Linked DNA regions of Homo sapiens: region 2 is linked to region 1. The links come from fine-mapping of genetic effects on gene expression. Tissue or cell type: whole blood. Region 1 holds a variant in brackets; the other region holds the start of a gene. All regions are shown on one strand. Distances are from middle to middle. Region 1 has its middle 64 kb from the start of MAGI3. Region 2 holds the start of MAGI3 (membrane associated guanylate kinase, WW and PDZ domain containing 3).

Region 1 (16,816 bases):
CAATTTTTTTTTTTTTTTGCTTTTGATGATTGATTCAAAACTGTGTTCTATAGATCTTAATTTTCACATCTTCTACTTCGGCAGCAAAATGAATACTCAAGGTGAAAAACAAAATAATAGCTTAGAATTTAAAACCTGTTCTTATTAGCTTGATATAGACAACAGGGTCAGATGTTGCTGCTTTCAACTTTTTTTTGCACACTTAAAAATAAAAATATGAATCGTTATGCAACTAAGAGTTTAAACTTTTCTATTGGACTATTGATAAGTTACAGTTTGTGAGTTTTAAAAACTTTTACTTCTGTGTATTTTAAAGAGATTGTGTTCAGTTTATTCTCAAGTCAGACTTATACATCTTGGTTCTGACCCAGATTTTATATTCTCATATATAAGGGTGAAAAAGACTGCCAAAGCACAGTGTTAAGTTCAGGTATTCACCAGTCTAACCTGTTACCCTCCTTGGGGTCTTACTTTCTTACATGACTGCAGTCAACAAGTTAACTGGAGCTCTAGTTCTTGTGATTCATTTGAAAGTCTATTCACTATTATTTCATGTCCAAAGGGCTGTAACAACAAATATTAGAAAGTGGGTAATATACAGGCCTCTTTGTTTTGATTATTTAATCCAGAAGAGGTAGATGTAGAAATACATGACATCATCCCTCACTCACTTCCTTTAATCCTTTTTGATGATGGTACTCAATAGTTGTCAATACCTAGATAGTTCACAAGGAAAAGCTATGTAGAATTAGAATGAACCATTAATATGAAGAATGTGACAACCTACTTCTGCCCAATATCATACATTATATAAGGAGAGAACATTCAATTTGATAAGTATTTGAGTGCCTTATCTGTATTGGGTAAGACGTGTATCAAGGAAAGCTGTGCCCTTGGTTTTTACATTTTTCCTCGTCTAGCGAAGGGCTACATTCTTCCAAAAACACATCCTGTGGCTGAAAATGTTTTTGTTAGCAGTTATGCAACTTTATGAAAAAGCATGGTCTTCTCCAAATTGGATATACTATAAATTGAAGACATTAGTCATAGCTGCTGGATTTTTCCCCCCATTTGAAACACATGCTTTAATACTTTCTTTTTTAGGTCGAATTTTAAGTGGTGTATTGAAATGTTGGAGAAAAAAAAATACTATATGTAAAAAAACAGGTTGGATAGATAATATTTTAAAAAGCAATCTGCATTAGGAAGAGAAAGAGCCGTGTCATTTTCTCACATTTCAACTCCCAGGCATACACATATAATTTAACAAAATGCAATATGATGCAGTACTCATTCACACACTTAGCATGTGATTATTGAACACTTGTCATGGGTGTCACACTGCAATCATCTCTGTGGGGGATACGAAGAAAAGAAGGCCCTGCCCTTGCTCCCAAGCAGCTCACAGCACCTTTGGAGAAACAAGACAAGCATGAAAAATTTAATGACAGTGTAGGGTACTGAATCTATAACCAGACAATAGTGCTTTGAGAAAACATGAGAGAATGTGTTCTGTTGGGAGGGCTATAAAGAAGCAGGTAGGCTTGAGCTGGGTCTTGGATGGTGAGAAAGATTTAGCTAGATTAGGGAACAATAGGGAGGAGGGCCCTCTAGACCAAGGGGGAATGTTTAAGAAAAGGAAGGATTGTGTAACCATGTCCAGCGGGTGGTAAGCAGACAGCCTGGCTGACCTAGAGGGTCTATGTCTTAGAAAATTATATTGGAGCTAGAATTGGTGGGAGAGACAGGGAAGGCAACTGACTCTTATTGCTACCCGCTGTACGCCAGGCCCTTTACTTACCTACGGAATACTTCCAACAACCCTGCTATTTCCCAGGTCTACAGGTGAGAAAACTGAGTCTCAGACAGATTATGTGATTTGTCTAAAGTTGTAAGGCTAGTTGTTGACAGCACCAGGATGCAAACCCATGTCTGTCAGCACATCCTTCCTCTTTCTACCGTACCAGCTCCTTTAAGTGCCTTGCAGAGGGACTTGAACTGGTTCTTTATGAAATAGAGAATAGCTGAAAATACTTTGATCCAAAAAGACTTTAAGGAAATTATCTTCATGGTGTGTCAGCGTGCAGTATGGATTAGAAGGACCTAAGAGTGGTGAGCATTTTGGACATATGTTTTTTTCCACTCTGTCGCCCAGGCTGGAGTGCAGTGGTGCAATCTTGGCTCACTGCAGCCTCTGCCTCCTGGGCTCAAGCAATTCTCCTGCCTCAGCTTCCCTACTAGCTGGGATTACAGGCTTACGCTGCCACACCCAGCTAATATTTTGTGTTTTCAGTAGAGATGGGGTTTCACCATATTGCCAGGCTGGTCTCGAGCTCCTGACCTCAAGTGATCTGCCAGTCTTGGCCTCCCAAAGTGCTGGGATTACAGGCGTGAGTCACTGCACCTGGCCTGGAAATAATTTTAAAAAGGGCCTTTACAACTCGGTATTCCCTTGGAATCCAGGACATTGTCTTGCACATAGTTGCAGCTCAGTAAATATTTCTTTAGCTAGAAAAGACCACAGAACTAGTATTCAGAAGATGTGTGTTCTAGTCCTGACTTGACACCGATGAGTTTTGTGGGCATGGGCAAATGGGGTAAGAGCTCTGTGATCTTGAGCACATTCCCCAACCTCTCTAAGGCTTAGTTTCCTTATCAGGGAATATAAGGCTCATAGGCTTATTACGGGGTTTACACGGAGATGATAGATACAATATGATTGAACAATGCCTGGCATAGTAAACCTTAGTTATTATTATTAAGGGGGAAATCCTTTAATTATTTTAATTAATTCATGAAGCCTAATGGAAATAACAGTTTCCCATATTAAGCCTACATTTAGTAAATGGGTTTTGGTAGATAAATATTTCTAAAGCATGAGAGTTGAAGGGAAGGGAAGGGAATTAAAAGGATTTTAGGTGATGGGAGTGATGAGCACACTGGCTTGAATGGTCCCCAGGAAATGTCTACCAGCACAAATGCTATGTGAGAATGGGACTGAAGGAAGACATAACCAACCTGGTGACTAGTCCTATTAGTGCCTTAATCTCTAGAGGCCCAAGATCCTAAACAAAGAAAAAATAGAGGTATAGAGTTGACCCTCTACATGTCTGGGTTCTGCATCTGTGTATTCAACCAAATACAGATCAAAATACTTAAAAAATTTCAAAATAACAATAAATTAAAAAATTTTAAAAAGATACTATATGACAACCATTTACATAGCATGCCTATGGTATTAAGTATTATAAGTAATCTATTTATTTATTTATTTATTTTGAGACAAGGTCTCACTCTGTTGCCTAGGCTGGAGTGTAATGATACGATTATGGCTCACTGCAGCCTCAACCTTCCTGACTCAGGTGATCTTCCGACTTCAGCCTACCGAGTAGCTGGGACTATAGGCATGCATCAGCATGCTTGGCTAATTTTTGTATTTTTTATAGATTCAGGGTCTCACCATGTTGCCCAGGCTGGTCTTGAACTCCTGGGCTCAAGCAATCCTCCCACCTTGGCCTTCCAAAGCCAAGTGCCGGGATTACAGGTGTAAGCCACCCTGCCTGGCCTCAGTAATCTAGAGATTATTTGAAGTGTATGTGAAGATGTATGTATGTTATATGCGAATATCATGCCATTTTATATCAGGGACTTGAGCATCCACATATTTTGATAACTATGGGGGTCCTGGAACCAATCCCCCAAATACCAAGGGACAACTGTACTAAATGCCCTAACTTTTTTGAAAGACCAGAAAACTCATGTTGGTGATGGTGGAAAAGTCCCATTGGAGTTCAAGGTGCTTGGGTTTTATATGTTATGTAATTTAAAGTAAGCTTTCAGTTTTATAAAATATAGTCCTAGTTAAATCCTGTTCTGAAAAATTTTCAGGTTTTGTCTGAAATTATACTGCCTAAACTTTATGCCAATACATTTTCCAGGGGAGGATGAATAATGGATTTGTTGTCTGATTATCATATTTACAAGCATCATCTGGTCTTAGTTGCCAAAGATTGGTATTTTGAAACCACAAGACGAGAGATT[C/A]ATTTCTTTACGGTAGAAAGACAACAAAAATCCCCATTAGGTCTACAGCACTTTCCCACTGTTCTTTCTTTGTTGTACATTAGAACAGCTACAATGCACTGCACATAAAAAAGGAATCTGTGATGGTTAAATATTCATGGCCATTTGCTATTCAGTGTGTGTTTTTATTATTTTTAGCAAATAACAGCACGATCTAATGATTCACTTAACCCAGTTTATGAACTTTCCGTATCTAATTTTTATCTATCACTGAAAGATTTCTGTTCTTTCTTAAAAAGAATGCGTTAGTCTTGCTTTTATGTGGACTCCCAGCCTAGAAAAGCCCATTTGATGGTCCCACATGCTTAGTTTGTAGGATCTTAGGTCTCAGAGTTGATAAAGTACTGTTGATGAAGACCAAAGAGAGTATGGAGGCAGAATCTTTCCTCCCTGGGAGCATAGAACCTCCAAAATATAAACGGGGGTTAACTGGGAATAGAAAGGTAGGGGGAAATTCTGCTCATCTTCTTTTTGTTTTATTGTTATAAAAAGGGTGGCATTTCCCAGAGATTATTGCCTTAGCAAAGCAAAGAGAAAATGAAGCAGAGAAAGAAGAGGAAAGGTTTCCTAAGATGTATTTGTTTACCTTTCAGCCTAACAAGGCTGGCTTTCTAGGTGTGTAACCTGTGTGGGTCTTAGAAGCAACTCAGGAGGCCCTCATGCTTGAATTAATAATGTTCTACTGTCACCATCTAAAAGTTGTTCATATTTTTTGAGCCAGGGGCCTCACATTTTCATTCTGTGCTAGGCCCACAAATTACATAGCTGGTCTCATGACTTGGTGAAATATAAGAAGAAGAAGATGTTTTTGTTTAAAGCAAAAGGGTTATATCAAGCTGACTGAAGAAAGAAGGCAATACCAGGAACCAAAAGAGGTAGAGGAAGTTGAGAACAGAGGAATAGCTTCAATGGTAATGTCCCTTTTCATGACTAACAGTGATACATATGCAACTTGTTCTCAAGGAAAAAAGAGGAATATGATTGGAAAGATAAATTACATATTTGATACCTCTTCCAATATGGCTACTTTTTATACAAATTACGCATTTCTGTTTTTCATCCTTCCTGCACCTGCCCTGCTCTGGTCTAATAGTCATTTGGACTCTGTTTATATAATTCACAATTGCTACTGATATCAAAGGTAAAGTATCCTATGTTGATACTTTAATACCAAGAGTCTTCCCATAATTTCCAGAATAATAAAAAGCTCTTCATTTATTTCTCAAGTGCCGAAATAAACAAAGGTCAACCAAACGAGAAAAGCGAAGGCTATTTATTCTGAGTTCGCAATGGAGTCAGCCGCCATCATTTGCATCTTGACAGAGATTCAAAGGCAGGTGGGAGAGAGGAGGTGGAGCAAGATAGCTGAACAGAAGCTTCCACCAATCATCCTCCCCACAGGAACACAAAATTTAACAACTACACAAAAGGCTCCTTCATAAGAACCAATAATCAGGTGAGCAATCACAGTACCTGGTTTTAACTTCATATCTCTGAAAGAGGCACTGAAGAGGAGGAAAGATAGTCTTGAATTGCCAACACCACCCCTTCCCCATCCCCCTGGCAATGGATGGCCAAATGGCATGGTGAGAGAATTATATGTTCTTGGGAGAGGGAGAATGCAGTAATTGTGGGAATTTGCACTGGAATACACTGCTGCCAACCCAGGCAGAACTCAGCTGGCACTCACAAGAGGGAGCATTTAGACCAACCCTTGCCAGAGAAGAATTGCCCATCCTGGCAGTTGGAACTTAGGTTTCAACAAGCCTCACCCACAGGCTAAAGTGCTGTGGGGTTCTAAATAAACTTGAAAGGCACCCTAGGCCACAAGGACTACAACTTCTAGGCAAGACCTAGGACTGTGCAGGGCTTAGATCCAGTGGACTCTGTGGGTGCATGACCTAATGAGACACCGGCTGGGCAGGGCTAAGAAATCGCTTACACCACCTCTCCCACAACCCCAGGCAGTGCAGCTCACAGCTTCAAAAGAGACCCCTTCCTTCTGCTTGAGGAGAGTAGAGAAAAGAGTAAAGAGGACTTAGTTTTGCAATGTGGATACCAACTCAGCCAATGTAGGACAGGGCACTGGACAGAGTCATAAGGCCACAATTCCAGGCCCTAGCTCCTGAACAACATTTCTAGATACATGCTGAGCCAGAAGGGAACCTGCTGCCTTGAAGGGGAGAACCCATTCCTGGCAGAATTCCTCAACTGCTGACTAAAAAGCTCTTGGGCCTGAATAATCAGCAGCAGTAGCCAGGTAGTGGACACCATGTGCCTTGGATGAGACTCAGAGATGTGCTGGCTTCAGGTGTGACCCAGAACATTCATAGCAGTGGTGGCTATGAGGAGAGACCCCTTCTTCCCAAGAAAAGAAGAGGGAAGAGTAAAGGAGACTTTGATGTGGGCTTAGGTACCAGCTTGGCCAAAGTGGAAAAGTGCAGCAAGCAGGCTCTTGGGGTCCCTGATTCCAGGCCTTGGCTCCTCGACAGCATCTCTGGACCTACCCTGGGCCAGAGGGGAGCCCACTTACCTGAAGAGTGAGTCCCAGGCCTGGCAGCATTTACCAAAAGCTCACTGAAGAGCCCTTGGGCCTTAAGTGAACATTAGTGGTACCCTGGCAGTACTCTCCATGAACTTATGGTGGTGGCAGACATGGGGAGAGACTCCTCTGCCTGGGAAAAGGGGAGAGAAGAGTGAGAAGGACTTTTTCTGGTGGTTTTGGTGACAGCTCAGCCACATTAGACTAGAGCATCAGGTAGACTTCTAGGGTTTCTGCCTCCAGGCCCTCGCTCCAGGACGGCATCTTTGGACCTGCCTGGGGGCCAGAGGGATTGCTGCCCTTAAGGGAGGGACACAAGCATGGCTGGCTTCACCACCTGCTGATTGTAGAGCCCCAAGGCCTTGATTGAACATAGACAGTAGCCAGGGAGTAGTTACAGCAGGCCTGGGCAGGACCCAGTGCTGTGCTGGCTTCAGGTCTGACCCAGTGCAGTCTCAGAGGTACTGGTCACAGGGATGCTGGTGTCACCCCTCCCTCAGCTCCAGGCAGCTCAACACACAGAGAGAGACTCCATTTGTTTGAGAGAAAGTAAGAAAAGAGAACAAGAGTCTTTGCCTGGTAATCCAGAGAATTCTCCCAGATCTTATCCAAGACCCCATGGGCGTACCTCTACGAGTCTGCAAGAACCAGTGTTACTGGGCTTGGAGTACTTCCTAAAGCAGATATGGCTGCAGTGATCAAAAACTTAGGTCACCAAACCCAAGTCCCTTCAAATACCTGGAAAGCCTTTCCAAGAAGGACAGGTACAAACAAGCCCAGATTATGAATAACTCCTCAAAGCCCAGGCACCAACAAATATCCATAAGCATCAAGACCATTCAAAAGAGCATGGCCTCACCAAACAAACTAAATAAGGCACCAGGGAACAACCCCAGAGAGACAGAGATATGTGACCTTTCAGACAGAGAATTTCAAATAGCTGTTTGAACAAAACTCAAAGAAATTCAAGGTAACACAGAAAAAGAATTAAGAATTCTATCAGATAAATTTAACAAAGAAATTGAAATAATTAAAAAGAATCAGGAAGAAATTCTGGAGTTGAAAAAGGCAATTGACATACTGAAAAATGTCAAGATTCTCTATCAGCTAGATTCCCCTTCTCCTGAACAGCTCCTCAGCCTCTCTAGGTTTGCCTCTCTAATCTTAGCAGCTCAGAAAGCAAGCACGAAAGGAAATAAAACAAAACAAAAACCAAACGTTGTATTTAAGGTCAAGGTTTACCGGGGTACCAGTCCTGGCTCTGCCCTATGAGCCACATGATTTCAACCAAGTATGTTGTCTGAATCTTACCTTTCTTATCTGTAAAATGTGGATAATGTGTTTCTTGCCATTTTCACGGGGTTATTACGAGGGCTAGATGTGTTATTCTATATGCAAATGCTCTGAAAACCTAACAAGCAGTATTGGTTTGTTCACTTTTGTGACCCAGCCTGGTGGGTCAGAGAAGTCTTCCTGGAGGAGCAGATGTTGGGCCTGAGGCATGGGGAAGGCAGAGAGTTAGCAAATGAAGAAGGTTCTAGATTGAAGCAATGGTATGAACAAAGCCAAGGAGTTGTAAAGTGGCAGGGTGAGCTCAGAGAACCATGAGCACCTCTGTATTCTCAGCTGAAGAGAGATGGGGAGATGCAGACAGGGCTTGGGTCAGGAGAGTCTGGTAGGTTCACCAAGAACCCTGTGGCCCTGGGGCCATAAGAGCTATGGGAAGGTTTTGGTAAATGAATAATGTGGTATAACAGTGTTGTAAAAAGACTGCTCTCATGGCAGAGTGGAGGGTGAAATGGAGGGAAACCAGAATGAAGCTGGAGGTGCGGTCAGGATAAAGGCCTTAACCAGTGCAAAAAGTGAGGATAGAGAGGAGGGGTGAGGTCAATAAATATTTAGAAGACAAAATTAGCAGCACTTGGTGATGAGTAATGAGTGTCTTTGGATAATAAAAATTGGCAAGTTTGATGATTGGTCCTTGGCAAAATGCTGTAGCCAATTTTTGGAAACAGTAAATGAACATTTCATTTAGAAATTAAAATGGTGGATTAATTTAGCCTCAGAACACATTGACTATGAACAAATCATACCAAGCATGTCTCATTTCCTCTTTACAGAATAGTTATTTTTCCAATATAAAATAATAAATGCTTATTTTAGAAAACTTGGAAATTATCGAAAGCTAGGATAAGAAAAAGTTCTGCTACCCACTAATTAACATTCCTGTCAGTATTTTTCTAAGAAGATCCTTTAACATGGTTGTGATCATTCTGTCCACTAAGTCTAACAGTGTGTGATATTTTTTTCTCTTAACATTACACCTCAAACGTATTTATTTTGTAACAAAATCTTTGTAAATATTATTTTAAATAGATAATATTGACTGTCTATGGATGTGCTTTAATTCATATTTTATGGGATATTTGTTTCTAATGTTGGGATATTTAAAATAATAATTTCATTGATATCTTTATATATAAAGTGCTTTCCATGTATGGGACAGATTTCCTTAAGATAGATTTCTTAAAAATGTTTACAGTATCAAAATATACAAATGTTTAAAACCTTTTGTTACATGTTATCAAACCTCTTTCAAAAAGGATTGCAACAATTTATAATGCCACTGGTATTGTAAGGTTATCCATTTCACAATATCTCTTCCTGCAGAAAATCATCATTAAAAACAACTAAACAAAACCAAAACACTTTGCTAACTTGATTAGTAAAAATGCCAACTCATGGCCAAGCATGTGTGACTCACACCTGTAATCCCGGCACTTTGGGAGAGCCGGACAGGAGGATTGCTGCAGCCCAGGAGTTTGAGACCAGCCTGGGCAACGACACTTTGTCTCTACAAATAATTTTGTCTCTACAAATAATTTTGTCCCTACAGATAATTTTAAAAATTAGCTGGGCATGGTGGCATAGGCCTGTAGTCCCAGCTGGCCTTAAACAGGGCAAAAAGTGAGGATAGAGAGGAGGGGTGAGGTCAATAAATATTTAGAAGACAAAATTAGCAGCACTGGGAGGCTGAGGTGGAAATATCCCCTCGACTGGGAGGTTGAGGCTGTAGTGAGCTGTGATCACACCCCTGCACTCCAGTCTGGACGACAGAGTAGGGGGATAAAAGTCAACTCATTTCATTTTCTTTGTTTTTACAAATATGAATAATACACACATACGGGAGAAAGTAAAATAGTATAGAAAGGCATAAAATGAGAAAGCAAAAATCTCCCCCCTTCCACAACCCCAAACCTACCCGCTTCCCCAAAGCAACCACTGCAAAAAACTTACTTGTGAATACCTTTCTGAAAAAATTGTTTATTAAAGTTTCTAAAATAGTACTAGGTACTATTTATATCCGAGGGTTCTAGGTCTGGAAACCTTTCCATGTCAATGCATATAGTTCTACTCTATGAATATATAAAAATTTATTTATCCAGTTCCCTATGGATTGATATTTTGTTTATTTTCAATATTTTGCTATTGCAAAGAATCCTGCAATGAACATCTTTGAATTAAGATCTCAGTGTACTTGTGCAGCATAATTCCTGGATATGAAATTATTTTCAATCTTACATTTTAAAATGTTTACAGCAATTTATGATCTCACCAACAATGTGTAAATGTTTATTCCTTCACACTCTCACAGATAAGCCTTTTTTATCAATCTGATAGATGAAAAAATGTCATCTCCAGCCAGGCACGGTGCCTCATGCCTGTAATCCCAGCACTTTGGGAGGCCGATGCAGGCAGATCACCTGAGGTCAGGAGTTCAAGACCATCCTGGCCAACATGGTGAAACCCCATCTCTACTAAAAATACAAAAATTAGCAGGGTGTGGTGGCACGTGCATGTAATCCCAGCTACCTGGAAGGCTGAGGCAGGTGAATCACTGGAATCCGGGAGGCGGAGGCTGCAGTGAGCCAAGATGACACCACTGCACTTTAGCCTGGGTGACAGAGCAAGGCTCCCTCTCAATAAAAAAAAAAAAAAAGGTCATCTCAGCGCACACTCATTCATAAATGTTTATTGAGCTCCTACTTTGTGCCAGGCCCTGCTCTAGATGCTTGGGACACACAACTGAACAAAGCAAAGATTCCTGCCCCTATGGAGCTAACATTCTAACACAATTAACAATAAGCATAATACATAATAAATCATAGTACACAAGTAAGTCAGAAGAAGATAAGCTCTGGATGCACTAGAACCTCTGCTTTTGCTGCCTCTGAAACAGAACGTCATGGCTACCTTTGTCACAGCACCACCAGAATGGATTTTGGTCAGTTGCTGCTTCTTAACCTCACTGGTTCTTGCCACGAAATTTAGGACTAGAGTATCTGATTGGTGAAGGCTAGATCATGTGACAGCACTCTTACTGTAAGGGTGGTTAGGAAAGTGAATATATGGAAATTTCAGATTCTTTGCTGAATAGAGGTCTTTGTCTCATAAGGTGGGGAGGAGATTCCTCAAACCCAAGGGGAAGTTCAGTCACTGAGCAGCTAAAAGGAATGACAAATGTCTACACACTGGTGTTTGATTCCCTTTCACAAGTGCCTGGGCAAACCTTAGGGAGTAGAGGTCCCAAAAGTCAAACTAGATCTGGTAAAGTAGGTACCCAGAGTGACCAGGGGCAGATGTAACCTGATGAGCAAATGTAGGTAGAAGCCTAAGGTCAAAACTTAAGGATCATGACCAGTTATTGGGCCTAAGGGAGTAATGCAAATATTACAGGAGTGGAAGCTACATATCCCTGGATACTAGGAAATTTAGGAAGAATATAGAGCTTGCCTTCACGTGTAGAAGTGTTGTCATATGGAAGAGTGATCATATGTATTTTTGGAAACTGCACTGGGCAAAGCCACATTTATCATGTATCCAGCAAATATGTAGTAAGTAACTGATATATACTAGTTCCTGCTCTAGGCAGTAGAAATACAACAGTGAACAAGGCACATAAATTCCTACTGATATAAAACTGGCATGAGTTGGGGGAGTAAATTATAAAAAGAATCACACATTCATATGTATAATATAATGTTAGCGTTAGATGATATGAAATAAAATAGAGCAGGGTAAAATATACAGTCGAGCATGGAGCAGGATAGATAATGCAGCTGGAGAAGGCCTCTCTGAGATGGTAGCATTTGAGCAGAGACTTGAATGAAAAGAAGGAGCAAGCCCTGCAAGCATTTGGGAGAAGAAATTCCAGACAAATAAAAACCAGCACAAACGCCCTGAGATGGGAATGCACATAGTATGTTGGAAAACACTGAGAAGCCAGTGTGGCCAGAGAGCAGTGAGTAGTAGGAAATGAGATCAGAGAAACAGTCATGAAACCAGGTATTTCAGGCCTATAATTATAGGCTGAGGTAAAGCATTTTGATTTATTGTAAATGTTATAGAAAACTATCAGAGGACCTTGAGCCAGAGAATGACATGATTTGGCTTACATTTTATAAGGACTAGTTAAGGGGCTTCTATGGAGAATTGATTGTAGGAAGGACAAGGTAGAACCAGAGAGATAAGTTAGGAGGCTACTGTCATGGTCTAGTTCAGAGGCAACGGTGGTAACAGTGGGTGAGAGTTTCAGAGAGACACGGTGTAACTTTGTATAAGGAAAACCTCCAGTTATTACAACTGTCCAAATATAGAATGGTCTGGGTGCTAGAGATGAGATTTCTATATTGGGAGGGGTTTGGTCTAGGACAGGAATCAGCAATCTATGATCCAAAGCTGGCCCACCATCTGTTTTTATAAATAAAGTTTTATTGAAATACAATTATACTCATTATTGTCTATGGCTACGTTTGCACTACAAAGCAGAGCTGAATAGTTGCAACAAAGAACATATGGCCTGCAAAGCCTAAAATATCTGTTTTCTGTCTCTTTACAAGAAGAGTTTGTTGATCCTTGATCTGGAAGACTCCTCTGGTTCTTCCTCCCTTCCAGAGTTCCTAGAATTCCATATGTAATTGTTCACTTGACATTTTTATGTTATCTTTGTTCCATGTGGGTAGTAAAGACTTCACAGATGGGAAGCTTGCTTTCTACTTCTTAAGTAGGTCTTTCTATTGCCTAATTGTGAACATTTGGCAGTTTCTTTAAACTACACTCTTAATTGGGAGGTCAAGTATAGAGGTCATTATCACTTTGTAAAGAAAAAAAATTGTTCCAAGTTTCTGAGTACATTACTATCTAATATTTTCCTATAGATAAAGAGTGTATGCCATTGGCAATACCTATGAGTTAGCTTAGCAGTTGCTTAACAAAGTCATCTTGATAATTTTAAGAATGATATATGGGGTTAAGAATCAAATGTTTGAAGCTCAAGGGAAGATCTTTTTCCTGGCAATACACGTGGACCAAGGGTAATAGAAACAAGTACAGTAACTTAGCAGCCAAAAGAGGTTGATCCAGCTCTCTGGCTTCTTCTGAAGAGGCAAACAGGTCATATGTTTGGAGAAGTGAAGGAATTGCATACCTAAATAGACTATTACATTTCTTTTAATGAATGACAGGAATGTTTGTACAAGATACAAACCAATCTTAGTTATCCAACAAAAGGCAGCAAGAGCTTCAAGTCTACCATGCAAATCCCTGGAATTTGATTTGCAAGTAATTCTTATTCTCTCACACGAGGGCATTGGAAGAACAACAGTGCTGAGCAAGAGCAGAAATTCTTCATAAGAATTCTAAGAAAGAGAGAAAAGGGGAGTTTCTTACGTAACAATAGGTGTGAGAACAGAGAAAAGGGGGGCAAGAGGGTCACTATAGGCACCACTGATACTTATGGTGAGCTAATGCCATGCTGCTAGCTTTCCAGAAAGCAGAGACTCCCTTTCCCTTTGCCTCTACTAACAACAATATCAGATGAACTTCTATTTTGAAAAATGCTATCATTAGGCATTAGGACCAATTATGAGGAATGGATTTTTAAAAATTGAAATTCATTTTCATCTCTGAATCTACACACAGACACACAGACATACACACACACAAACACACACAAGCAGCTTAGACAATTATTCAGACAATTCAGACAAAAATCTCAAAATCTGTTACTTGTTCTTTATCTCCTCTAATTATCAATACTGATCATATCAACTAGACAGGCCATTGCTCTCCTCTCTTCTCTCTATTTTGTGTTCTTTGTGTAGAAGCATAATATTAATAAATAGATTGAAATCCTAACGCAGTATTCACTGCTGGTTTCAGGGGTTGCCTGGGGTCATCATTTGGGCAATACTCCAAAATTATTAGTTCCCTCTGGATTTTTAGTGATATAGCAACCTAATCAATTTTAAATAGTTTTATAGAATATTAATATCAGTGTTGCATAAGAACCTTTACTTCTGAAGCTTAGCTTTTAAAAATTCTTCCTAGAGCACCCTTCTTCAAACATATGTAGGCTAAAAGCTATTTGATATGTGACTGATCATTTATGTATACACACCCATGTTTACCCAGTGCTTCTGAATCACTTATGACTAATTAATCTAGTTAACCATTACAGGCTGCATAGCAAGTGATACTACAAATACCACCTTGTATTTTTTTACATAACAGAGGCAGAGCACTGGCAAAGGAGTTGTAAAAAACACTTCACCAAGCAACCTGGGACAGGCTGCTGGACATCTCTGAGCTTCTGTTTTTTTCTATCTACAAAATGGAAATATGTATGTATTTCCATTTTATCTAACTATATGTTTGTACCATTAACCTTTCCCACTCCCTGCCTACATTATTCTTTCCAGCCTCTGGTAACCATCATTCTACTCTCCATCTCCAGGAGTTCAATAGTTTTAATTTCTAGCTCCCACAAATAAGTGAGAACATGCAAAGTTTGTCTTTCTGTGCCTGGTTTATTTCACTTAACATAATGATCTCCAGTTCCATCCATATTGTTGAAAATGACAGGATAAATATGTATGTATTTCCATTTTATAGATACATATATATGTATTTCAATTTTATAAATATATAAATACATATGTAATATATATATATATCCTACTAGATGAAATTATTTTAAGATCATGATTCTGAATGGACTAATTACAAATGGATAGCACAGACAGGATTATTATTATACTATTATAGAATACCTTGCTTTATATTAGACCCTAGACTTCCTTGGAACAATTCTATGTCTGGCAAAAAGCATGGTCATTATTCAGTAATGGTCTTAGTAAGAAAATATTGAGTCAATAATTATGAATACCAAGATTCAATTTTTAAAAAAATTTTTTATTTTTAACTTTTCTGCTTATATAGTAGGTATATATATTTATGGGGTACATGAGATATTTTGTTACAGGCATACAATGCATAATAATCACATCAGGGTAAATGGAATATCCATCATCTCAAGCATTTATCCCTTTTTTGTAACAATCCATTTATACTCTTTTAGTTATTCAAAAATATACAATAAATTATTGTTGAGTGTAGTTATTCTATTGTGCTATCAAATACTAGATCTTATTCATTCTATCTAACTACATTTTTGTAACCACTATCCTTCCCCCTTCCCTCACCCGACTACCCTTCCCAGCTTCTGGTAACCACCATTCTACCCTCTATCTCCATGAGTCCAGTGGTTTTTATTTTTTGCTCCCACAAATTGGTGAGAACTTGCAAAGCTTGTATTTCTGTGCCTGGCTTATTTCACTTAACATAAGACTTCCAGTTCCATCCATGTTGTTGCAAATGACAGGAAGTCATCCTTTTTTTATCACTGAATAGTACTCCATTTTGTATAAGTACCATTTTTTTTATTATACTTTAAGTTCTAGGGTACATGTGCACAACGTGCAGGTTTGTTACATAGGTATACATGTGCCATGTTGGTTTGCTGCACCCATCAACTCATCATTTACATTAGGTATTTCTCCTAACGCTATCCCTCCCCCAGCCCCCCAGCCCCCAATAGGCCCTGGTGTGTGATGTTCCCCTCCCTGTGTCCATGTGTTCTCATTGTTCAACTCCCACTTATGAGTGAGAACATGCGGTGTTTGGCTTGCTGTCCTTGTGATATTTTGTTGACAATGATGGTTTTCAGCTTCATCCATGTCCCTGCAAAGGACATGAACTCATCCTTTTTTATGGTTGCATAGTATTCCATGGTGTATATGTGCCACAATTTCTTTATCCAGTCTATTATTGATGGACATTTGGGACATTTGGGTTGGTTCCAAGTCTTTGCTATTGTGAATACTGCCGCAATAAATATATGTGTGCATGTCTCTTTATAGTAGTATGATTTATAATCCTTTGGGTATATACCCAGTAATGGGATGGCTGGGTCAAATGGTATTTCTAGTTCTAGATCCTTGAGGGACCACCACACTGTCTTCCACAATGGTTGAACTAATTTACACTCCCACCAACAGTGTAAAAGAATTCCTATTTCTCCACATCCTCTCCAGCATCTGTTGTTTCCTGACTTTTGAATGATTGCCATTCTAACTGGCATGAGATGGTATCTCATTGTGGTTTTGATTTGCATTTCTCTGATGACCAGTGCTGATGAGCATTTTTGCATATGTCTGTTGACTGCGTAAATGTCTTCTTTTGTGAAGTGTCTGTTCATATCCTTTGCCCACTTTTTGATGGTTTTTTTTCTTGTAAATTTGTTTAAGTTCTTTGTAGATTCTGGATATTAGCCTTTTGTCAGATGGGTAGATTGCAAAAATTTTCTGCCATTCTGTAGGTTGCCTGTTCACTCTGATGATAGTTTCTTTTGCTGTGCAGAAGTGCTTTAGTTTAATTAGATCCCATTTGTCAATTTTGGCTTTTGTTGCCATTGCTTTTGGTGTTATAGTCATGAAGTCCTTGCCCATGCCTATGTCCTGAATCATATTGCCTAGGTTTTCTTCTAGGGTTTTTATGGTTTTAGGTCTAACATTTAAGTCTTTAATCCATCTTGGTTAATTTTTGTACATGGTGTAAGGAAGGGATCCAGTTTCAGCTTTCTATATATGGCTAGCCAGTTTTCCTAGCACCATTTATTAAATAGGGAATCCTTTCCCCATTGCTTGTTTTTGTCAGGTTTGTCAAAGAGCAGATGATTGTAGATGTGTGGTGTTATTTCTGAGGTCTCTGTTCTGTTGCATTGGTCTATATATCTGTTTTGGTACAAGTACCATGCTGTTTTGGTCACTGTAGCCTTGTAGTATAGTTTGAAGT
Region 2 (16,816 bases), 68 kb before region 1:
TGTGGTAAATGGATTGCAGAAAGATTTTTTCATGTCCACATTCATGCTGTTCTTCCACTGACCTACAAAGAGCCCAAGCAAGACTCCATCATTCCCATTAGTCTACCTAACAAACATAGTTTCCCCAGAACTGCCACCTCAATCCCCTTTCTTCAGTTTTGCCTCACAGGGAATACCTTGTCCTCTGCTGTGGCCAGCTTTACGTGGCCTGAGACATCTTCTTGTCCCGCACCCAGCAAGAGCACAATCCCTCTTCTCAGTTATGCCATCACTGCAGCCGAACAAGCTTGAGGACAGTGAGCCAAAGGTATCCTTGACAGTTCATCTCCCACAACCCTGAGTGTCCTCTTGCCCTAAAATTTATCTTCCCCCAATGCATCCCCTAGTCACTCAAGGAAAAAAATAAAAGCACAGCTGACTCTAAATCAGACTTGTAGCATCAGCCCCACAGAGAGAGCAAGAAACAGTGTTAGCAGTCTACCATATAGCAGGAACTATTCAGAAACATTTTACTGAAAGCATTGTGAAGAATCTCCGATAGGAAAAATGATTTTTCAAAGCTAAAGCTAAAGTAACTAACCAAAATAAATACTTAACTATTCAGCTATTATACCAGCTAACAATTTTGACTGTGTAAATCTTAATCATAAGTTACACCATTATAAAGGCTTAAAATGCCCTGAAAATCCATGGCATATAATGATTAAAATTCTTTCCTGTGCTGCAGGTTCGGGGATACCACTGCCTCTAACCACATTCATGCACACTGATGGCCTAACAAACTGAGTCTAGCACATTACACTTAGTTCCAAGAGAATGCAGATTTCATAAAGAAACAGAATATGTTTAACAGGTCCTTTTTTCGCCAATTTTCTACACAAATTCTTATGCCAGAAACTAGAACAATGAAAGGAACTAAACAATCTGAGTTCTAGTCTCTGCTCTACCATGCTTATGCTATGACTTCTGCCATTGCTAAGCCTCGAATTGTTTATCCATATACTAAGATTGGATTGCTGTGTTTCCTTCCACTCAAGTGACTGACTTTAGCCCAGAGAGAAAACATAACAGCGTAAACACTTAAAGAATAAGAGGTTCCAACAATCCACAACCTGCTTTACCTGCCTCTTCAAAGGATCCATCTTAGGTGTGCAATACTCGAAGTCTAGAAGGAGAAAGGTCTACTTAAATGCAATGAGTTATTCTTTTACCTAGCTTAGCTAAATTTTATTCAAGCAAAGTGTACTTTTGTGAGAAGGGTCTGCATACTTATAAAAGATCCCTAATTCTAAAGTACGTTCCTTTCTACATTCACCAGAACATTTTCTAGGCTCTCAGTAAATGTGCTAACACCTTCCTGGTGAGTGAATTACAGAGGAAGTAGAAAGGAAACACAAGAACAAAATATTATTTCTAATATGCAATTTTCCCAAGTATATTTATCCTAAAATATGTATCTAATATATTTATCTGGGCTTTTACATATTATAGAGAATATTTTCCGCAATAAAAATATTCTGCTGAAAATATTCTCTTACAAATGTAGCAAGAATACTAACTTTCTGCTTGATTAGCAATTCTTGGAAATAACTACTTTATCATGCAGCTTAGCTGTACAGATTAAACTGCACGGCCACAAACTCTGTTTTGAAACAGAACCAAGCAGTGAAGCCTTTATTGTAAGTACTTGCCCAGTGTTTTACTGCATTTAACACCCACGCAAACAATTCAGAATTGTGCTTTTTCCTTTTACTAGAAAAAGGAAGACAGGTTTTTTGGATATAATGAACTAATATTCTATCCAGAAAGTAAAGAAAGACTCAACGCTGTGTCAGTTCATAATTCTTCCTGTGAGTCTGTGTGAACTTTCACGTGTTAATCTCTCTAACTCAATTTTCTCATGTGTAAAGGAAGATGATAATATCTGACTCATAGAGAATAAAAATATATAAAGTTCTTTATAAGAAAACATGAATGCTAATATATACATCCTTATAAACCAAATAAGACAGGTATAAAATGCCCTGACATGGAAGTTATTACTCTAAATGACAGCTAATATGTTGTGATAAGTCCTCAATATTCCTATTAGAGTAAGGTTGTCTAAACTTAGGGTTGTCACCCAAGGGAGGCTGAAGTGTCATTTCAGTCATCAGCATTACATTGTGAGATTGCTCTAGTTAGCAAATCTAATTCTATTCAAAGGAAATTAAAATTTTCACTAGCATGTGCATTCTAACTTAAACACTGAAATTAGTGAATAGAATTCTTAGCTAAAATTAATAATATTTTGACAAAGTGTTCTGCTGAAAGCTACCAAGTTGGATTGAGATACAATTCTGTGAACAGAGGTAATAAAGACTATATCATTTTACTAGATTTCATGGCTTAATTAATCAATATATGGAATTAATATTGGAGAACTCTAATTATTACAGGCTTTTGAAGTAGAAGCAGTAATTTTCCAAATATGGTCTAAAGTCATCCGAAGGGTGCCCAAACTAATCTAACAATACAAAGTACTTGCTATGATGATTCTTACTGGCAAATCACACCCAATTCCATGAATGTTCATTTTTATGTACAGTAAGTGCATTCACCAATAATCTACCAACATTTAATATTCACTAAAGATCCAACTACCAGATGACACTTGGCAAAACTACAAAACTCCTACTGTGCATGGCATATATAAACTCAAAGTTATTACTAAAATTATTATTTTTATGGCACCAAAGCTGAAGACATTGATACAGTAATAGAATATAAAAATAGTATGAAATGTTATTTGGAGCACCCACCCCTCTCTTTCAACTGTCTACCCCTGCTCTGAGTACCTCTGTTCTCCCAGTGGAGGCTATAAAAAACTTTAAAAAGGGGATCAGATTTTATCCTGCAATATCTGCCAAATAACATTTTTGGTAATTAAACAGTTACCACATGACACCATACTTAAGTAATGTTTCAAAACTCTTATATACCCATTTTATATAAGAGTCAGTGAAGTAGTTCCTTTCACATAATTTCCACGAAATCATGGTTAAAAAGTATTATTAGGGAGCCCTCAGAAATACTACAATAATGACATTGTCTCAATTTGTGTTTAAAAAGACCATTGTTTTAAAAGCAAAACACCTTGGAAAGTAATTCGTTTAGAATTTCATTTTCAAAATGGTAGAATAAAATTGTTTTAAAAACGTAATTGTTTAACTAGGCTAATAATATTTTTCTCAATGCCAAAGACTGTTAATCTTCCAAAGTATTCCATCTCCCTAAAAATCAACAGCATTGATTTTAGAGAATCTTATTTAATTTTTTTAAAGAAAATTAAATAAAAATTACAAGAAATACTTTTAAATTGTGCACATTAAGGTATCAGTATTTCAATTTTTTAAAGAAATAACTTTTAAATAAAAGCAATTTTTTATTTAAATATTTGAGTAAAAGCAGTGCCTAGAAATCAAATCAGTTTTGGTTTACAGCCAATATCTGTTTTTCTAAAAATGATAGTTTTATGACAACTGTGTACTACTTCTGGCCTCCAAGTAAGAGAGATTAAATGTTTTAAAAGAGATCATTTCCTGTAGTATTGATTCCTCGGCATCCCACCCTTTCAGGAACTCCCCCTCCCTTACGTCTTGGGGTTCTGCTACAGTTATTAATCATATTATGCTATTTATACCCAGCTGCAAGGGTAGACATGTCCCCACGCCTGACCAATCATGGCACTTCATTGTCCTCTCCTCTCTCTACAATAATTGGTCCAAGAGATGGGCACAGGGCCAAAGTCCCTGCATGAGATTTGTTATTAGACTCCAAAAAGATGAGAAGCTTTAAGGACCCTGTATGACTTCGGGGTTCAGAGCTACCTTCACCGCTACACTGACAGTCTAGCTGAGAAAAAATCCAACCCAGAAGAAAAGAGAACCAAATAATAATTCTAATGACCAACACTTGAGAACAGAAGTTAGCTGTTACTGATCTATGCCTGGATTTTAATGTATGTAAGTCAATAAATTTCTTCTTAGCCTACATTAATCTCAACAGCGTTTCTGTCACTTGCTACAGAATTCTTACAAATACAGAAACTGATATGTAAATTAAGATTTTTTTCTTTCCTGCTGAGATCTAAGCTATATATCACAAGATACTTGCTGCAAACTAGATAACCATATCCAAAGAGTAATATATCTCTGGAACTACTCCATTAAAGTGAATTTTTAAAAGTTATTTTATTGGAGGAAAAAGCAAAGCCAATTTAGCTTAATTCTATTTAAGTTCAGAAAATGAAGCATTAATAAATACTTGTTTTTTTCCTACCTTGTAGGATATTTTCCTTTCATAAAACTACTTCTGTTAAATGCCATTATGTATAGTAAAATCCCATTTTTCATAGTCATGTGTAATTCCCAATCAGAACAACGAGATACAGGCTTGCCTCTCACAAACTCCCCTGAAGCCAGAAAATAATAATTACGTGTTTCAAATTATGTGCAAAAAAACCAGCAAAAGCAAAGAGGCTAAAATGCCAGAAAGTTTTAATTAAGTAGATCGGTTACCGTTCACATTGTATACCCAAGACAATAAAAAGGGAAGCCTCCAAATAGAAAAGATCTTAATTATTAATAAATTTGAAACAAAATTTTTTCCAATTACCACTGCATGATATTTTTTAAAACCAAACCCTAAACTCCAAACAAATTATGGCAAAAAAGTTTAACCCTTCATAACCCATACAGAGTCTCTAAAACAATATCTCTCAGTATGTGTTAATAAAACAAGTACCTAATCACCTATAAGGACAGCGTGTCCTTTCTCAGGTATTTAGATATGTCATAAGTCAAATTATGGTCCTCAAAATGTAATCTATGTTCCCCTGGCCATGTTGGGATGACTGAAATGGGTGGGGGCTGCAGGTAAGTGGGTTGCTCCTGGAAACCACTGCAATGCAGCTGAGTGGCTGCATCAGGATAAATTGCTAGGGTTCAGGGAAGAATGGAGATATAATGATGCCACCCTTCTCACTGGAAGCCAGTCGGCTGTGGCTGTAACAAAAGGGAAGGCGGGATTAAGATGAAAATATATTTTTCAATTCCCTTTTTCCTAGGCTAGCAAATTGTGTTTTCCCATAAAACTGGCTAGACTTCCAAAACAACAAAAATAGGGCTATTAACCATAAAGAACAGAACTAATGGTACATTAAGGGTTAAATAAAAATATTCATAGTATAACATTATGAGTGGAATGAGGCTGAAGGCAGAAATAGCATTAAGCACCTTAGAGCATTATTTCGAGGAGATAACACATTTAAAAAAAACTTACAGGAGACTATTCATAATGGAACTACCTATACATTTAAACAATTAATATGATCTTCCCTCTATTTTCCAATTATTCTATAATGTGGATTTTGTGCCCTTGTACAAAATAATTTCCAATTATTCTATAATGTGGATTTTGTGCCCTTGTACACAAACACACACAAAATTATTGAGATGGACCACACTGTAAACCTTTCTGTATGGAACGTTTTTGCCCTGTGTTTTTCTCCTCCTCTGCTTCTTACCTACTACTGGAAAGATCCTAATTCCACTCAACCAAAATCTGTCATCTTTCAAAACCCAAACAAGTTCAAAATTATTCACAATTCATTCCTCAACCACTCAAGTCAGAAAACAAGGGCAGATGGCGTGGATCCTACCAAGATATTAAAAAGAAAAAAAGAAAAGAAATCATTCTTTCACTTCATGTACACATTTAATTTCCATAAATTCACTGTACATACCTAGATGAGGATAATTTCTTAGAATTAAAAGTTTTTTTGTAAAACATATCTTTTTAATGCAAGCAAATTACTTCTTCTGGTATTCGACCAAAAAACTGCAATTGGTTCCAACATGGGTGGAAAAGTGGCATTTGGACTCATCCTACAAACAGTACAATATAGTATTTTATGCACAATTTAAGGGCTTTTTGAAAAGACAGTTTTGCTTATATTTGATTTCCCTCTTTTTGTGATGACTTGAGAACCCAAATCCTTTCTAAAATGCAGCTCCACTACTTTTTCGAATAGCACACTATGCAGCCAGTTAGTCTCATTTTCACCAAAATTCATACTAAGACCTACCTAAAGAGTTTTAAACACTGGCAGAAAAGTGAAAAAGGCAAAACCCTTACTACAGGTATTCCTTACCAATGAGTCATTAAGCTCCCACTAAACTGCCAGCTTCTTGAAGACACACAATTTCTGACTCATGTTTATATCGCCAGTGCTAGCTCCATGCTGGCACTTGGTGGGTGCACCACTAAGTATTTGCTGAGGGAATGAATGCGTGCCAGTAATAGGACTTCTTATTTTTTCTGTATTAAATAAAATATGCATCTTTTCTTGGAAAACATTCTGAATAATAGTTGTTCTTCAAAAACAAAATATTAGCAAGATATTTTGTTAGCAAAATTAGCTAGAAGAGCAATGAATGGATTTGCCTCTTTCCCTACAAACATGTCTCATAACACCAGCTTCTAAGTTTCTGAAACTCTTACTTTAGACAATAGTTTTAAATTCAGGGCATTCACTCTATCTACCAAAATGTAGTATTTCAAGAAAATTATTGCTCAAAATTTCAGAAGACAAAAAATAATTTATTAAAGGCGAAACGGTTCTAGTCTTCAATACCAAAACACTTATCTTTTGTCAAATCACACACACACACACACACACACACACACACAACCCTGACATTCACAGATTTTGAAATTGGTAAATAATACTGAAGTAATCCATAAAAACAAGATTCTCTTTCAACATACTCCCAAAACACTAAGTCCCCCCAAAAATTACAAAGCACTTAGGGGTTACATAGTAAAGACTCTGTATGAAACTATCACTTGAGAAGATTAGGCACTGACTTCATAAGTCAGACACTTGAATGAATTTAGAAGATTTGTTTTGTCGCCAGTTTACATAAATTAGCAGAAAAAAAATCACAAAAATTTGTCTCTCAAAACAAAAGGTTTTATAAAGTATGTGCCAGGATCTCAGAGGAAAAATAATGTATACGTCCCAGGAACACAGAGTTATGTTACATGAAAATCAGTTTTAGCAATAAACTGAATAAAATTTAAAATCATCTAAAAATCAAATGGCCAAATGTTAAGTATTTGTTTGTACCAGTAAGATAGCAAGAAATTAAAGAATTATTAAAATGCCTCAACCTAGGAAAATAAAGTTTTACAAACTAAATTATAAAAGTCTGGGGGTGAGGGCAGGATCAATAAAGTACCCAAAATGATATACTAGAAAATGATATACAAGAAAAGTTAACAAAAGTATGTGTGTGTGTATATACATATACATATATGCATATAATATATATATACACACACGTATATACATATATACATACTGAGATATTTGGATATAGTACTCTTAGAGAATGATGGAGAGAAAATATTTTTTAAGTACAAAGATGTTAATGATATAATAAAAGTCATCAAATATCATGCAAGCAAATCAGCTTGCAATTGCTAAGGTGTAAGCCCATTACTCATATGAATTGAAGGTGTCAATGAACAGAATCCAAAACCTGAACCCCTGAGTTATTAAGAGCTTTAGGGAAAAAAGAAAAAAAAACTACCAAAATTTGAAATAGGAAATTTTCAACTTCAAGGTTTATCAAAATGTAATGCTACTTTCCCTAGCAAAGGGGCTTGGCTTGCTTCTTTTTCTATTGTTTCTAAAATAATCTCTAGGTCTCTAGATTTTCTTGTTTTAAAAAAGGTACGAAGAAATGTATTGTAAGCCTGGGAGGCTAACAATTAACTCTAAATTCTCTTACCTTTCCCATCCTCATATAATACAACCACCTAAACAAAACTCATCAAAAATCCTAAATATCCCACTAAAAAAAAAAAAAAAAAAAAAAAAAAAAACTAACAAAAAGATTCAAGAGATAAGAAAGGCACAGCATTATTTTTATTTGAATAACATAAATATTTCCTATTTTAAAGCATCCAGTAGTGTTTCTTCACCAACAGGAAGTGTATTTCTAGGAATTAGCCCATTTTAACAAAACTCCCTTACAAATTGGATGTCCCAAAGAGTCAGCAGTGAAGACTTTTACCTACCTTTAACATTACCCAGGAACTGTTTCAACTTGGTTTTTATTTAAACAAACTATAACATTGTTTCCTATGATTTCCATCCCTGGATACACTACTTGCTTAGGGTAGTTGAATGTAATGTGTGCATATGGCAGTAGACAATGATTTCATGTATTTATTGTACCGATACTTAATCTCTGGAATAAAATACACATAATTTACTGAAACTTACTGAAAGCAAACTGCTGAAATATGAGCTTAAAGGTGTATGAAGAAGCATAAAACTCTGCACAATTAGAGTCTGGGGAATTTCAGAACAAAATTCACTACTTGTATATTAATCAGAATAGAAATGGTTTAAGAATATATACTCTGTAGTAAAATCAAAGAAACTAAACCTAGTCATAGTAGTATATCACAAAACAATTTCACCAGAGGTCCAAAGTTCAACTTTACTACTGGGAAAAGACAAAGTTCAAACTCAAATGACAACTTTTCTCTTTGCAGAAAAATAAACAACAGGGTCATAATTAAGAAACAAGTAACTAATCGAGCCAAGCAATAGGTGAAACCAAAGATTCTTCTATAAGCGGGCAAAGTACTGACTACTAAGTACTACACTAAAACAATAAGAAACTACCTAATTGATTCAGGAAAAGCTTCAGATTAGAAACCATATTTTAAAGAGTAACTTTCAATTCTCTATTAAAGATTATAACAACAAAAAAAGGGAAAAAAAATCAAAGCTAAAGACAGTAGCTGCCAGAAAGATGTTAAGTCACCTGGCTGATAGTACTGGCTTTGGGAGGGCGACCCTTAGCACCTAAGTGAAAAGAAGGCTAGGAAGAATCAGTGCTACAAAAGCCATGTTCTACAACCCAGCTCATCCTTCTGCCATGGACTTTGTCAGAAGACAATATGAGAACATTTCCGATTAGTATTACATCTTACAAAAATGGTTAAATTTTACTCTTTCACTGTGCTAGTCTCTAAATGTCATGTTATGAATATGGTTTAATAAAAAGCAACTAGTCAAGACAAGAGAGTGCTAAGTACACTTTACAATACCTTATTAAATTGAAAAATCAATTTCTGTCACAAAGTTTAGATAAAAGCAAAAAATAAAACAATGTTTATGGCAAGTTTCTTTTTAAATTCCCTTACTCTATTTTCATCCTTTCCAAAATGAATCACAATAAAGAATCTTTGTCTCTTCTGAAAATAATATTTGTTTTTAATCAAACTCAAAAGTTCTACAGATAACCTCTTCAAATTCTTAATTTCTAGTATTTAAAGTCTGTTTAACCTGCAAAAATCTTGCTATTTTATAACAAATGTTGCTTTTAAGCAAAGCCATTTAAGAAAGCCATTTAATATAATACCTAACATGAGGCTATTAAGAAGCTAAGAATACTATTTTTAAAAGAGATTAAAAATTTTAAATTACAACCTGCTTAGAAACAATATTAATCTCAAATAACACAGACATAATGGTATCTTGAGAAATTACTGACACAAAGTGTCTCTTCAAAAAACAAGTGTAGTATTCAGAACTTTATTACTAATGACTACAAAATGTTCTGTGGCCATTAATACGTTATTCCCTTTATTTTGGCTAAATCTTTAAAATAGAACAGTGTCTGTGGCTGTCAAGAGGGCAAAACTGTATTACTCTAATAATGTCAACTACATACGGGGGCATAGGATGTTTATTCAACACAGTTAATATTACTAATGCTCTAAATCTTGAATTATTGTTAAATATAATATAGAGGTTGAGAAAAATGTATAACAGGTAGATTAGACTAATGTTATGAAATAGCCATCTCTTCAGTCTTCTAAAAAAGATCACAATAATTTAGAATACACCAGCTTCCATGTCAATATATCAACTTTAAAATTTCTAAAAATAAGTTATATTCTCATCTATGCCCTAACGAATCAAAACAAAACACAAAGAAATGATGCAGATGTTCTCACTATTCACTAACTCATGGGATTTGAACTAAGATTTGGCAGCTAGACTAGTAAATGCTGTCTATATAGCCTTTTGCATATTACAGACAGTGCCTGACTAGCTGAATTACAGCCCCAAAAGTCTTTCCTCTGCCTTTCACACATGGCTGTAAAAGTTAGAGTTAAGAAAAAAATTTACAAATTCTCAAAACTATACAGAAAAAGCTGTTTAAAGTCTGCCAAAGTTTTAAAAAATTAACAACAATAAAAAGAAAACCTCACCACATAAACCCATACACTTAAAATGAATACGATGGAATACGCTATAGAAAGAAAATCTTAATTATGACCTTAGGAGCATGTGAGTCTGTGTGTATACATATCCACAATACACAGACATATGTAAACTGCACCACAAACCATCAAGCCCCATTAAGCTCAAGGACTATTAAAGATATATTAATATTTCCAAAGCGAGCTGCTGAGAAAGAAATGAGAAGGAGATAACATATTAAATTTTTATCCAGAATTTTCTAGCATTTTGCCATCAAGGGATGGACTGCTACCTAGCCCAGGTAACAATTAACCAGCCCATTATATTTTGATGCACCGTATACTCAGCAGAGCACATTAAGGAAAAACAGTTTGGTTTCTAATAATGTTACAATCACAATTCTCTCTCCCACAAACATCTAAGACGACAGAACCACATTCTATCTATGCTGAAACAAAACCAACAATGCTGTCTATAACAAATTCATAAGAACTACTACATACTATCAGATCTCACTGTATGCTGTCTCTGATCAATGCTTTGAAACTGACGAGTATGCCATAAACATAACGTGCTTTGCAGCAATTTTTACTAGCATAAAAGATACCAGGGCAACAGAGGCTCCTTTAACCTACCACTTCAACAAAATTCTGTAAAATCAAAAGCGTTACAGAAGCTTTCACTCCGCTAGGCACCTAGGTCTTCCTGCAAAACCCAGACTCTATTCAACAGCTCCCTGCAAGAACACACCAGTCTGCCACATATCACATATTGTACCGTCATCGGTACTCAGACACCTGAACCACCTGGACTGACAGAGTTAGGCTGTCAGCTCTGAGATGTCTGCTAGAGTGCAAGAAACACTGAAGCAGCTAAGCCCTTCCAGGTACACCAGGTGGTAACCTTGGCACCAAGTGCCTCTATAGTAAAGTCCCTTTTTCCCTGTTAGAAGATGCGTAAGATCGTTCCAAAGAAAATGTTACAATCCTAAGGGCCTTTTTGCACAACACAGGAAAAGGCTGGCCTTCTCTAGTCAAAAACTCTTGTCTGCGGGGGGAGATGGAGCTACAAATGTAGGAAACCCAGCTTCTAGTCGCAATTCTGTGACAGCTAGCACAGCTAGCAGAGCAACCGCGCCAAGCCAGAGCTCAGTTTTCCCTTCGGCAAAATGGGACTCACCAACGCCACCCCTCCCCCTCGTCAAGGAGTCTGGCACACCCTAGAGGTCTAAGATTACCCGGGACAATACGCGGTGGGGAGGTGCCGCCGCTCCCAGGACGCCCACCCTGAAGCCCCTCTCCCCAACACCCCGAGACAGATACGCAGGGCCGGCGTACCTGGTTTCACAGTCTTGAGACGGATGGGCTCGCGGAAGTGGCGGATGACAGCCAGGGTGTCCCGGTTGGTGAGCCCGCTGACAGGCGTCCCGTTTACCTCCAGCAGCACATCGCCTGGGCTGGGCGCCTTGCCCGAGACGACGCAGCAGGTGCCCCCGCCGGGCTCCTCGCGGAGCCGCCCCAGGTAGGGGAACTCGCCACGCTCCGCGCCACCGCGGATCTCCGCGCCGAAGTCGCCCGGGGGCCCGGCCCAGGACACGGCGCACTCCTGCACCTTGCTGAGCCAGTGCTTCTTCTTCTTCAGCGTCTTCGACATCCCGAACCCCGCTGCACCATGGGGGAGACCCCGCGCGGGCGGCCGGGGCGCCGCTCCGGCCCCGTCTCAGCCCGGGGGCCCTGGGCGGCCCGCGCAGCCCGGTAAGGGGGGCCTCGCCGCTCCGGCCCCCACCCCGCGACCACAGCCCGCTGGGGGCCCGGCCGTTCCCAGACGCGAGACGCCCCTTGGACGCCCCTCCCGGCTGCGCTCCCCGGGGCTGACCGGACTCCGCGAGGGCCACCGCGGGTTAGGCTGAAGAAAGGAAAAGGGAATTGTCCCCAGGAGGTTCCAGAAGGGGCTTCGGGCGGGGTCACTGCCGCCGGCTGGTCCCTGGGCTCAGCGCCCGAGCGGCGGGAAAGGCTGAGGCGGGGGGGCGGGGAGGTGAAGGGGGAAGAGCCGGGAACGGGAAAAATCCGTGGGGGGCGCGCAGAAGCGCGCGTAGACCCGTCGCGGGATCGATCGTGGCCGCTGCGGAGCTGTAGCGCGGAGACCAACGCCTGCCCAAGCTGCCAGGAAACTGCCGCTTTCAAACCAGCCGCAACCTCCTCCTCCTCCCTTTTCCCTTCCCCCGGCCCTCGCCCATCCCTCATCCAGAGCCCCGCCCCCTCCCGCCGCGCGGCGCCCGGCGCGCTGCCGTCACAGGCTGGGCGCTTGGGAACGAGCCCCGGCCCTGGACTCTCGCGCCAGGGATTGGCCCCCGGCGGGCAGGAGGCGGACCGCCAACGAGAATGGGGACCACTGGTTGGTCGGTGCGAGTGGAGGAGGCGGGCACTAGAATGACTGAAGTTTAGAGAGGGTGGAAAAAAGAAGTTTGGAGAGTGAGGGAGGGCGCAGAGGAGGGGCAGGGGAGTGGAAGGGGCTGTAGGTCGCAGGGCCGGGAGAGGCCCTCTGCGCGGCGGCTGGAGCCGAGGAAAACTCGAATCCGAGAGGGACCGAGCTCCCCGAAGTGGGGGCGTGGCCGGCGAGTTAGGCGGAGACGCGGGCGGAGCCTCTGAGCCTGTGCGGGGCGCAGAGAGGGGCCGGTGTGCTTAGATTGGAAGACAACGTGCGGAGTCCTGAGCCGGCCGAGGTTCCGGGGCCTTTAGGGTGGCCTGTTACAGCCGATAGTTTGCATTGAGTGGATATTGCTTGTTCATTCGTTCATTCAACAGATGTTACTGAACGCCCATTGAGGCAGGGCTTCGGAGTCCGGTTGATGAAAGATATTATAAAATAGAGTCCGGCACTGCTGTATGACCTAAGACAAATTAGACAACCTCTCTGAGCCGCAGCGTCCTCAGTGAAAAGTGAAGATTACAGAAGATGTACAAAATAACTGCATAGTGCCTGACAGTGGGTGGTTGCCTCTTAAAGTTTGGTAGCTGCTGCTGCTGCTGCTGATGACGATGACGATTTTGTGTTAGATATTGTGCTAGGTACTGGGATTCAAGGGTGAAGAAAACAGAAGCCCCGCTATTGAGGAGGTTACAGTCTAGTGGGAGAGACTGAGAAGTAAGCAGACTGCCTGAGGTGAGGGAGTGGGGTGGAGGTAGAAGGTGGATTATTAAGAACTAACCTGGTAGCCAGCAGATCTGGTTGGAGTCCTGACATGCTACTTACTTGCTGTTTGACCTTGGCCAAATCTCAGTTAAAGGAGGTGAAGGGAGAACGAACATTAAATAAAAGATATCGTAGATCCCTTCCAGCTCTAATTTTTCAGAAATTTCACTTGAGCTTTCTCTCTTCCCCGGCTTGACTTACACTCTTCCCTGTCTTTGGAATGCCCTTCATCTCATCTCTTTTAAAACTCCTATCCGTCCTCATCCCAAATGCCGGCTCTTCCAGGTAGCTTTCTCTGATTTCTTGCCCTCAAGTGGAAAGTGTTTTCTCTGAGCTATGATCTTTGTTTCACTTTTGCAGCATGACATTTATTTGTGTAGTCTCCTGTCTCCCTTTAATAGTAGGTGAAAGCCCTTATAAAACTCCACACCTCAGATAGACTGGACCAAGCTTCAATAGCTGCAGTGATTTCGTTGACACCATTGTATCAGTCAGGGTCCTGGCAGGAAACAAATGGCATTTTGCAAAGATGTGGGCAGGGTGTGGGAAACCACAAGAGAAGCTGGAACCCTGAGGCTACAGCTCCTAGATCTGTCCAATCGGGAAAGAACAGTTACCGAAAAATCCAGACACACAGGGCCACCTGACAGGAGTCTGTGACCTTCAGTCAACGGATGCAGTCAGCCTAAGTAAACACCCAGCAAAGGACCTGGGGGATTTATATCTAACTCACCACCCTCCTCCAGTCTCCTGCTGGTGCTTGTCAATGGCCAAGTCCAACCAGACGCCAGAGGGCAAGGGAGGCTTTTGATATAGTTCATATCAGTCAGTTTCAGAAAAGGAAACAGTGCATCTGAGGGGAAAATATTCAGCACAGACACCATGTGGATGGCTCAGATTTAACCATATCTGAGACAAAGCTTGGAGTATTTTTTTTCTAAACTACTACCTATACTAATGGATTCCTGGATAAAATCTCCATAACCTACACATCATCTGTTTTTGCAGGAACTCTGGGAAAACATCTTTCTGTGTCTAGATTGCATCTGTTAGAATGCCTTTGGCCTCAAGGAACAGAATATTTGGCAGTAGCTTAAAGCATGAGGTCATTTACTATATCTTCAATATAAATTTCAAGTGCAGATAGTTTCAGGGTTAGTTGAGCAGTACAATCATGTCATCAAGGACCCAAGCTCTTTTTTGTGTTTGCTCTCTGCCATCACATGCATGTGAGCTTTTGTCTCCAGGTTTGTCACCTCTTAATTGCAATGTGGCTGCCATAGCTCCAGACATCACATCCACAGAGGTCACTGCACAGAGCAGGAACGGAAGAAAAGGAAGTGCTGTCCCCCATTTTTATGAAGGAGAAAAATATTTCCCAGACTTTAGAATCTTCCTTATTGTCCAGAAAATGGTCATATGCCACATCAGACCAGTCACTGGCAAAAAGAGATAGGATTGGCCACAGTTCATTAAATTGATCACAAGTCACCCCTAAACAAAATGAGTGTTCTGACTGAGAGCAGAAAAGGGGAAATAGTTGCTAAGTAGGCATCCAACAGTGTTTGCCACATGCCTCAACCATGAATAAGTTGTATTCATTCTTGGGCAGAAAACTGCAGTGGTTCAGAGCTTGAGCAAATCAGACTGCAAATCCCAGCTTTTCTACTTACTGCAAATCCCAGCTTTTCTACTGCTAGCTCTGTGATCTTGAGCAAGCTATTTAACCTTGCCTATCCTCAATTTCCTCATCCACAAAATGGGTTTGATGACAGTGTTTACCTGAGTTGTTGTGAGAACTGTATGAAGCTATTTGAGTCAAGTAATTTGAGTCAAGCTATTTGATAACATAGGATGCAGCATAGAGCAAACAGTAAATTTTTATTTTAGTTTGTGCTAAATTGTACTATCTTTGACAAAGCTAAAAACATTGTATTAAATTCACCCATCTTAGTAAGCTTTGGTTCAGTTTTTAAAATATTCTAGAAATAAGCTACCCATGCTATTGAATTAATTCTGGTAGGATATTATTTTGGCAATTATTACATAAAGGGGTCATATTTTAAGCTTCTATCTCTAAAATGACACCTAATTAAATAATCGTATTGTATTCATGTTTATCACGACTTTCCAAAAATAATGGTTGGTTTAATAGTTGTGATTTCCATTGGGGAATATTAATAAACCAAACAACATGGAACAAAAATAATAAAAATAAATGAGGCAATTGAATTTGGTGATCTCCAAGGTTTCTTTGGGCTATCCCTATCTAATCTATCTAATCTATAGAGCTAGAGATAGCTATGTGTGTTAGGCCATTTTTGTGTCATTATAAAGAAATACCTGAGGCTGGGTAATTTATAAAGAAAAGAGGTTTAGTTGACTCACAGTTCTGCAGGCTGTACAAGCATGGCGCTGGTATCTGCTTGGCTTCCTGGTGAGGCCTCAGGTAGGATTCAGTCATGGTGAAAGGTGCAGCAGTGGCAGGCACATCACATGGTGAAAGTGGGAACAAGAGAGGGTGGAGGTGCCACACACTTTTAAACAACCAGGTCAGGTGTGAACTCACTCATCGCCAAGAAGACGGCACTAAGCCATTCATGAGGGATCCGTCCTGTCCCCATGATCAAAACACCTCCCACCAGGCCCCACCTCTGACACTGGGGATCACATTTCAACATGAGATTTGGAGGGGACAAATATCCAAAACATATCAATATGTTTCACTATGGAAACTTTACAAGTTCAGTCCCAAGATGGCTGCAGAGGCTCCAAGTATCACATCCACACACAATAATGGCTAAAGACTGAAAGGAGGGAAAAGGATATTTCCTTTCCTCATTTCCTTTTTGTAGATCAAGGAAGCCTTTCCCCGAAAGGCCTCCAGCAAGACTTCTCCTCTAGCTTCTTGGCCACAGTTTCCCAAATTTCCTTTACTAAATGAATCTTTGCCAAGGGTAATGAAATATCTTATTACTTATCCAGTATCACCTCTGGTACTCTGAAGGGGGCCCTGCCTCTTGGCTGCACAACATAGGGACAAAACTTGGCGGGGAGGGGTCTCTTAGTAAATACAGGGAGGGGAGATTAGCTTTTGGGTAAGCAACTCACAGTGTCTGCCACGTGTACACTGCATTGATTTGCTTCTAATAATTTTTTTTTAAGCAAGGTGGAAAGTTTGTTTTGTTTCATAATATTGTGCCTAATGTTTCTAATGACAGTTAAGTAAACCCACTCCTGACCGTGCACGGAGGCTTAGGCCTGTAATCCCAGCACTTTTGGAGGCCAAGG

What was found.
Region 2: it holds the start of MAGI3, and the variant in region 1 is fine-mapped to the expression of MAGI3 in whole blood (INTERVAL, PIP above 0.99).

Annotation. Positions count from the first base shown.
Region 1 is chr1:113,317,762-113,334,577 of GRCh38, reverse strand. No RefSeq gene overlaps it. Among named protein-coding and RNA genes, the nearest start is that of MAGI3, 64 kb to the left of the region's middle. The variant C/A (reference allele first, on the strand shown) is at 4,042.
Region 2 is chr1:113,386,204-113,403,019 of GRCh38, reverse strand. It overlaps MAGI3 (membrane associated guanylate kinase, WW and PDZ domain containing 3), which reads right to left and starts at 12,505. Exons shown (of 21, transcript NM_001142782.2): 1 at 11,671-12,505. The coding sequence starts at 11,986. RefSeq lists enhancers at 11,460-11,509, 11,560-12,059 and silencers at 11,740-11,899, 11,960-12,089, 12,500-12,859, 12,890-12,939, 13,929-14,173.